Regions from separate parts of the Homo sapiens genome. Here region 2 is linked to region 1. The links come from fine-mapping of genetic effects on gene expression. A gene starts in region 1. The other region holds a variant in brackets. All regions are shown on one strand. Distances are from middle to middle. Region 1 holds the start of AP2B1 (adaptor related protein complex 2 subunit beta 1). Region 2 holds the start of LOC107985033 (a long non-coding RNA gene).

Region 1 (2,916 bases):
AACCACTTTTAACGTTCTGCTGAATATCCAAGCTTTTTTTTTTTTTTTTTCTTTTGAGATGAGTCTGGCTTTGTTACTCAGGCTGGAGTGCAGTGGCGAGATCTGGGCTCATTGCAACCTCTACCTCCTGGGATCAAGCCATTCTCCTGCCTCAGCCGCCTGAGTAGCCGGGATTATAGGCGTGTGCCACCACCCCCAGCTAATTTTTGTTTTTTCAGTAGAGACAGGGTTTCACCACATTGGCCAGGCTGGTCTCAAACTCCCGACATCAGGTGATCCACCCACCTCAGCCTCCTAAAGGGCTGGGATTGCAGGTGTAAGCCACCACGCCTGGCCTATCCTAGCCTTTTTTTTCTATACATATATAGTCATACTGTATACTGTATTGTTTGGTGTCCTTTTTTTGCTTAACACTTTATGAATTTTCTGTCATAAAATATTCTATAACATTATGCAGCTATCTGATTTACCATAACTGTTTGCATTCTCTCACCTTATACCTGGCTTTCTAATTTCCCCTATTCCCCTATTTTAATAACAGAGGAAATAATAATACATGAGTATGTTATACAAAATTTTAATGTACTTCTGATCACTTTTTTAAGAATGAAGTTTTAAAATACTGAAACACTTTTTGACTCACAGAGTTCATAGGCAAAATGTGAGAAAAATCATCACTTTGCTCTCCATCCTTCCTTACACCCTGAAATTAACCTTAGGGACAGCTAGTTCATTTAACATCATCAATCTTGTTCTCCAGTTCCAGGTCCTGGAATCTAGCTCTTAGTGTCCGAAAGAAACTTACTTTTGTGTAAGCACACCTATTATATACTAGGCACTTTACCTAATTTATCTGGTTTAAACTTCACATGCCCGAGAGAGATACTATCATTGTCTTCATTTCACAGATAAGAAGGTTGATGAGACATTAACTGTCTCAGTCACATTCAGGGTAGGGATTCAAACTCACATCCAATGCCTCCTCAACCTCTTTTACGTGCAGCACTATCCTCTAGCCCCACTGCCCGTATATAGGCCTGGGCTATATCACCATTGTCCGCCCTTGAGCCTGGAAGGAAAATGAGCTGAGGGGTTTTGTTTTTTCAGAAAGGAACAGGATATTTCATCATCTCTATGTTTACGTTTTTCAGAGAATTTCTGTGCGAGGAAACAAATCCATTGTCAGCTTTTTAAAATATATCCCTTTGGAGTAGCCACTTAACATCCTCTGAGGCCCAGATGGGCTAGCTTGCCGGGACCAAAGGAAATCTTTGGGTCTGGAAGGCGACAAGAGATCACAGGCTTTCTAGGTCTACCGCGCACCCCGATGACGTCACGCGGCGACGTTCTCTGACGTCAGAGTTTCCTGCCCACCATCTTTGTCCCTGGCAAAGTGGGTTTTGCGCAGTGGCTTAGACCTAGAAAAGAATCGTGACGGGCAGGAAACCATTACACCACCACCTGGGCTGTGCTCTCCGGCTCCCGCCGCCACCCCCGCCCTCGCCTTCGCCTCCGCCTCCGGTGAGTTCAGGGCGGTTGCCTTTAGGGTGTGTCCCTAATTGACGGGGTCGGGGACGGAGAGAAGGGTAACACCAGGCTGGGTCGGAGACCGGCGGAGGCGAGGAAATCCTAAGAGCGTGACCGTTGATGATGCAGGGAACCGTCGGGTGTGACCATTGAGAGGGAAAAGGTTGGAGAAAGGGTCTCTACCATGATGCCTGTGGTGCGGTGAGGGAATCCTCGGGTGTGGCAGCAGGTAGTTGGGGGCAGGAGGGGAAGATGTGTTTCGGAATTGAGGGTTTAGGGGGACCAGAGGCCAGGGGTGTGGCTGATAGAGCCTGGAGGCCGTGGGGGGAACCGTCTTTCTTCCCCGCTCGGCGTCGTTCACTGAGAGGCTGAGACGTGTCCAGCAAGCCAAAGGGAAAAGGGATTCCCTCAAAGGTTTGCTCATTGATGGGCGAACGTCGTCTCTCGGGTAACTTGAGGGTAAGAGACAACCTCTTCCCTGCTCCGTAATGGAGGAGCATATCGCTAGAATCTTGACCACCTGGGGAAAGAAGAGGCATTCCTTACTCTTGGAGGAAGGAAAGAGTAACCTCCAGAATTGACCCGATGTAAGAGAGGGGGAAGCAAATGGGGGCAAATCTTAACCCAGCATCTTTTTTTTTTTTTTCTTTTTCTGGGCTCTGCAGTAATGGTCTGGTTTGGGAAAGGCTGTAGATTAAGCTGAAAGTAAAGAAACTGGAACGTCCTGTTATTTCCTTATCATTTGAATCCAAATCATTTGTTCATGCTGCTTGTTTTCAAGAGTAGTCTTCTATTGGAGGGGTGGGGTGGGGGGGGACAGGCCTTTATTGAACTCACGCGGATGCTTCATTAAACTTTTGACTTTTATTTTATTTTATTTTTGTATTTTTAGTGACAGGGTCTTACTGTGTAGCCCAGTCTGGTCTCGAACTCCTGGGCCCAAGCGATCCTCCCGCTTCGGCCTCCTAAAGTTTTGTGATTACAGGCGTGAGCCAGCGCGCCCAGCCAAACTTGACTTTTGAGAAGAAAAAATGTTTTGAAAACTGCCAAAGACTTATCATAACCATTGTGGTTTAAAAGAAAGTAAATGCATTAAGCTTAGAAAGGCAGAATGACTAAGAAAGAAGGTGGTCTCAATGAGAATCAATTTAAATGATTAGTTACCTTCCTTGTATACTTCAATTGCTTAGCCTCAGGGTACACTTACAAAGTAGTAATAGAAAGCAGCAGATGAAGGAGGTGCAGCTCTATAAGAAAACGTGTTAAGACATTCCAGTGATGACTAAGCGTGCTGGTAAGGTGAGAACTGTTTGCAGTATCTTAGCCGTTGAAACTTTCAAGGAAGCAGAAAGGATGATGTATAATGCAAACATCCTCACTAAAAGCTGG
Region 2 (2,916 bases), 35 kb before region 1:
ATTTATAATGAGATGTTTAAGGTTGAACATTATAAATTACCTGTTTACAGCTCAATTCCATGATTATTTGGAAATGTGTATATAGTTTGGGCTCTTGCACTTATGCAACTAAGGCACTGCAAAAACTTAAACTAAAAACACAAATCACTTTTGTGACACTCTTGAAAAGACTGACTAAATATATTTTTGTGTGTGTGTGCAACCAACTCCCAGCACATCAGGTGGGTAACTCTTCCCACACGAATAGTCTGCCTACCCTCAGGAATATTTTTTGTCTGTGGTACCTCAGCCTATCGTTGTTTGAATGGCTCTTCAGAATCTATATGCTTCCTCTCATTCTTAGCGCCCCCTATGACCATCTACACTGAACAAGATTTATACAATCATGTCGTACCTAAGCCCCGCAACAAAAGGGTACCCATTCTTCCTTTTGTTATCGGAGCAGGAGTGCTAGGTGGAGTAGGTACTGGCACTGGCGGTATCACAACCTCTATTCAGTTCTACTACAAACTATCTCAAGAACTAAATGGTGACATGGAACGGGTCTCTGACTCCCTGGTCACCTTGCAAGATCAACTTAACTCCCTAGCAGCAGTAGTCGTTCAAAATAGAAGAGCTTTAGACTTGCTAGCCGCCGAAAGAGGGGGAACCTGTTTATTTTTAGGGGAAGAATGCTGTTATTATGTTAATCAATCCGGAATCGTCACCAAAAAGTTAAAGAAATTCGAGATCGAATACAACGTAGAGCAGAGGAGCTTCAAAACACTGGCCCCTGGGGCCTCCTCAGCCAATGGATGCCCCGGATTCTCCCCTTCTTAGGACCTCTAGCAGCTATAATATTGTTACTCCTCTTTGGACCCTGTATCTTTAACCTCCTTGTTAATTGGACCCTGTATCTTTAACCTCCTTGTTAAGTTTGTCTCTTCCAGAATCGAAGCTGCAAAGCTACAAATGGTTCTTCAAATGGAGCCCCAGATGCAATCCATGAGTAAAATCTACCACGGACCCCTGGACCGGCCTGCTAGCCCATGCTCCAATGTTAATGACATCAAAGGCACCCCTCCCGAGGAAATCTCAACTGCAGAACCCCTACTACGCCCCAATTCAGCAGGAAGCAGTTAGAGCGGTGGTCGGCCAACTTCCCCAATAGCACTTGGGTTTTCCTGTTGAGGGGGGCACTGAGAGACAGGACTAGCTGGATTTCCTAGGCTGACTAA[A/G]AATCCCTAAGCCTAGCTGGGAAGGTGACCACTTCCACCTTTAAACATGGGGCTTGCAACTTAGCTCACACCCGACCAATCAGATAAGAAAGAGAGCTCACTAAAATGCTAATTAGGCAAAAACAAGAGGTAAAGAAATAGCCAATCATCTATTGCCTGAGAGCACAGCAGGAGGGACAATGATCGGGATATAAACCCAGGCATTCAAGCTGGCAACGGCTACCCTCTTTGGGTCCCCTCCCTTTGTATGGGAGCTCTGTTTTCACTCTATTAAATCTTGCAACTGCAAAAAGAATATATATATATGTGTATATATATACACATATATATACATATATATATACACATATATATACACATATATATACACATATATATATACACATACATATTTTTGTGTGTGTGTAGTTGGTAAAACTCTTACGTCACAAAATCCTTTAGGGAGTCGCTTTCACAAACATAGAGGATCTCTTTTGGTTTGCAGTGAAACAAGTCCTTAATTTTCTCCATGATCTTTATGGCTAGGGCTGTCTTCCTGACTCCTGGAAAGCAGTAGATGAATAATTCACGTGTCTTCTGAAGACTCTCAGAAAGCAACTGGCTCTGCTCCATTATGAGCAAGTTGAAAAATTCACAGCCCATCTGGTCACTCAGAAGAGATCTGGAGGACAGGGAGACCACCACCAGAGCCTGCAGCAAGTCTTCCATTTCCTCCTCATCAGCAAGCCTGTAGGACCTGGGGTAACGCAGGGGGATCTCACCAGGTCTACTCTGTGTGCTGCTCAGGTGTATCAGCCTTGGAATGATGCACACTTTCCCTGTGTAACCACCAACAGTTTGCAGTTTCTGCTTTAACTGATGAGCTGTGTTTCGGGCATATTCAAGTCCTCCAGGCCAATTGGGGTCTATTAAGATTGTATAGAGTACCACGGGGCTGTTAACTGCTATCAGGAGAGCATCACACAGGACATTCTGTTCTTTCCTGAAGCCAACATCACCAGCCCAGCTTCTAGAAAATATCACAATCCCCTGAGAACAAGGATGTATCAGGGTCTTCATTAAACCCTCCAGTTCTTTATGATCTGAGAACAGCTTCTTACAGAGGGATTCTGGTTTAAATTGTACCTCTTCCTGTGTCACTGAAAATTCAAGGAATAGATGTTACCAAAACTTACAAAAGCATGTGGTAAGTATTCCTGCAACGTTGCAGAAAAAAATGATACCTGGTGCATTTGGGAAAATAAGAGCTTTCCTTTAGAATTGTGATTCTTAATCAGGAGCAGTTTTACTCCCCAACTCTCCCCCATCCCCACGGACATTTGGCAATGTCTGGAAAATTTTTTCTTTTTTTGTGAGACGGAGTCTCGCTGTCACCCAGACTGGAGTGCAGTGGTGTGATCTTGGCTCACTGCAGCCTCTGCCTCCCTGGTTCCAGTGATTCTTCTGCCTCAGCCTCTGGAGTAGCTGAGATTACAGTCACATGCCACCACACCTGGCTAATTTTTGTATTTTTAGTAGAGACAGCGTTTCACCATGTTGGCTAGGCTGGTCTCAAACTCCTGACCTCAGTTGAGGTCACCCGCCTTGGCCTCCCAAAGTGCTGGGATTACAGGCATGAGCCACCATGCCCGGCCTGAGAATTTTTTATTGTCACAATTGGAGGGGAGCTACTGGTATGTAGTAGGTACCAGATAGGAAT

The links. PIP is the estimated chance that this variant, and not a neighbour inherited with it, causes the effect. A credible set is the group of variants that fine-mapping cannot tell apart.
Region 2: its variant is the best candidate, but not a certain one, in a credible set for the expression of AP2B1 in whole blood (TOPMed, PIP 0.65).

What each region holds. Positions count from the first base shown.
Region 1 is chr17:35,585,908-35,588,823 of GRCh38, forward strand. It overlaps AP2B1 (adaptor related protein complex 2 subunit beta 1), which reads left to right and starts at 1,415. Exons shown (of 22, transcript NM_001030006.2): 1 at 1,415-1,521. RefSeq lists enhancers at 1,222-1,391, 1,361-2,560, 1,822-1,931 and a silencer at 1,472-1,591.
Region 2 is chr17:35,551,089-35,554,004 of GRCh38, forward strand. SLFN14 (schlafen family member 14) reads right to left here. Exons shown (of 6, transcript NM_001129820.2): 5 at 1,642-2,356. It overlaps LOC107985033 (a long non-coding RNA gene), which reads left to right and starts at 2,117. Exons shown (of 2, transcript NR_138032.1): 1 at 2,117-2,403. The variant A/G (reference allele first, on the strand shown) is at 1,218.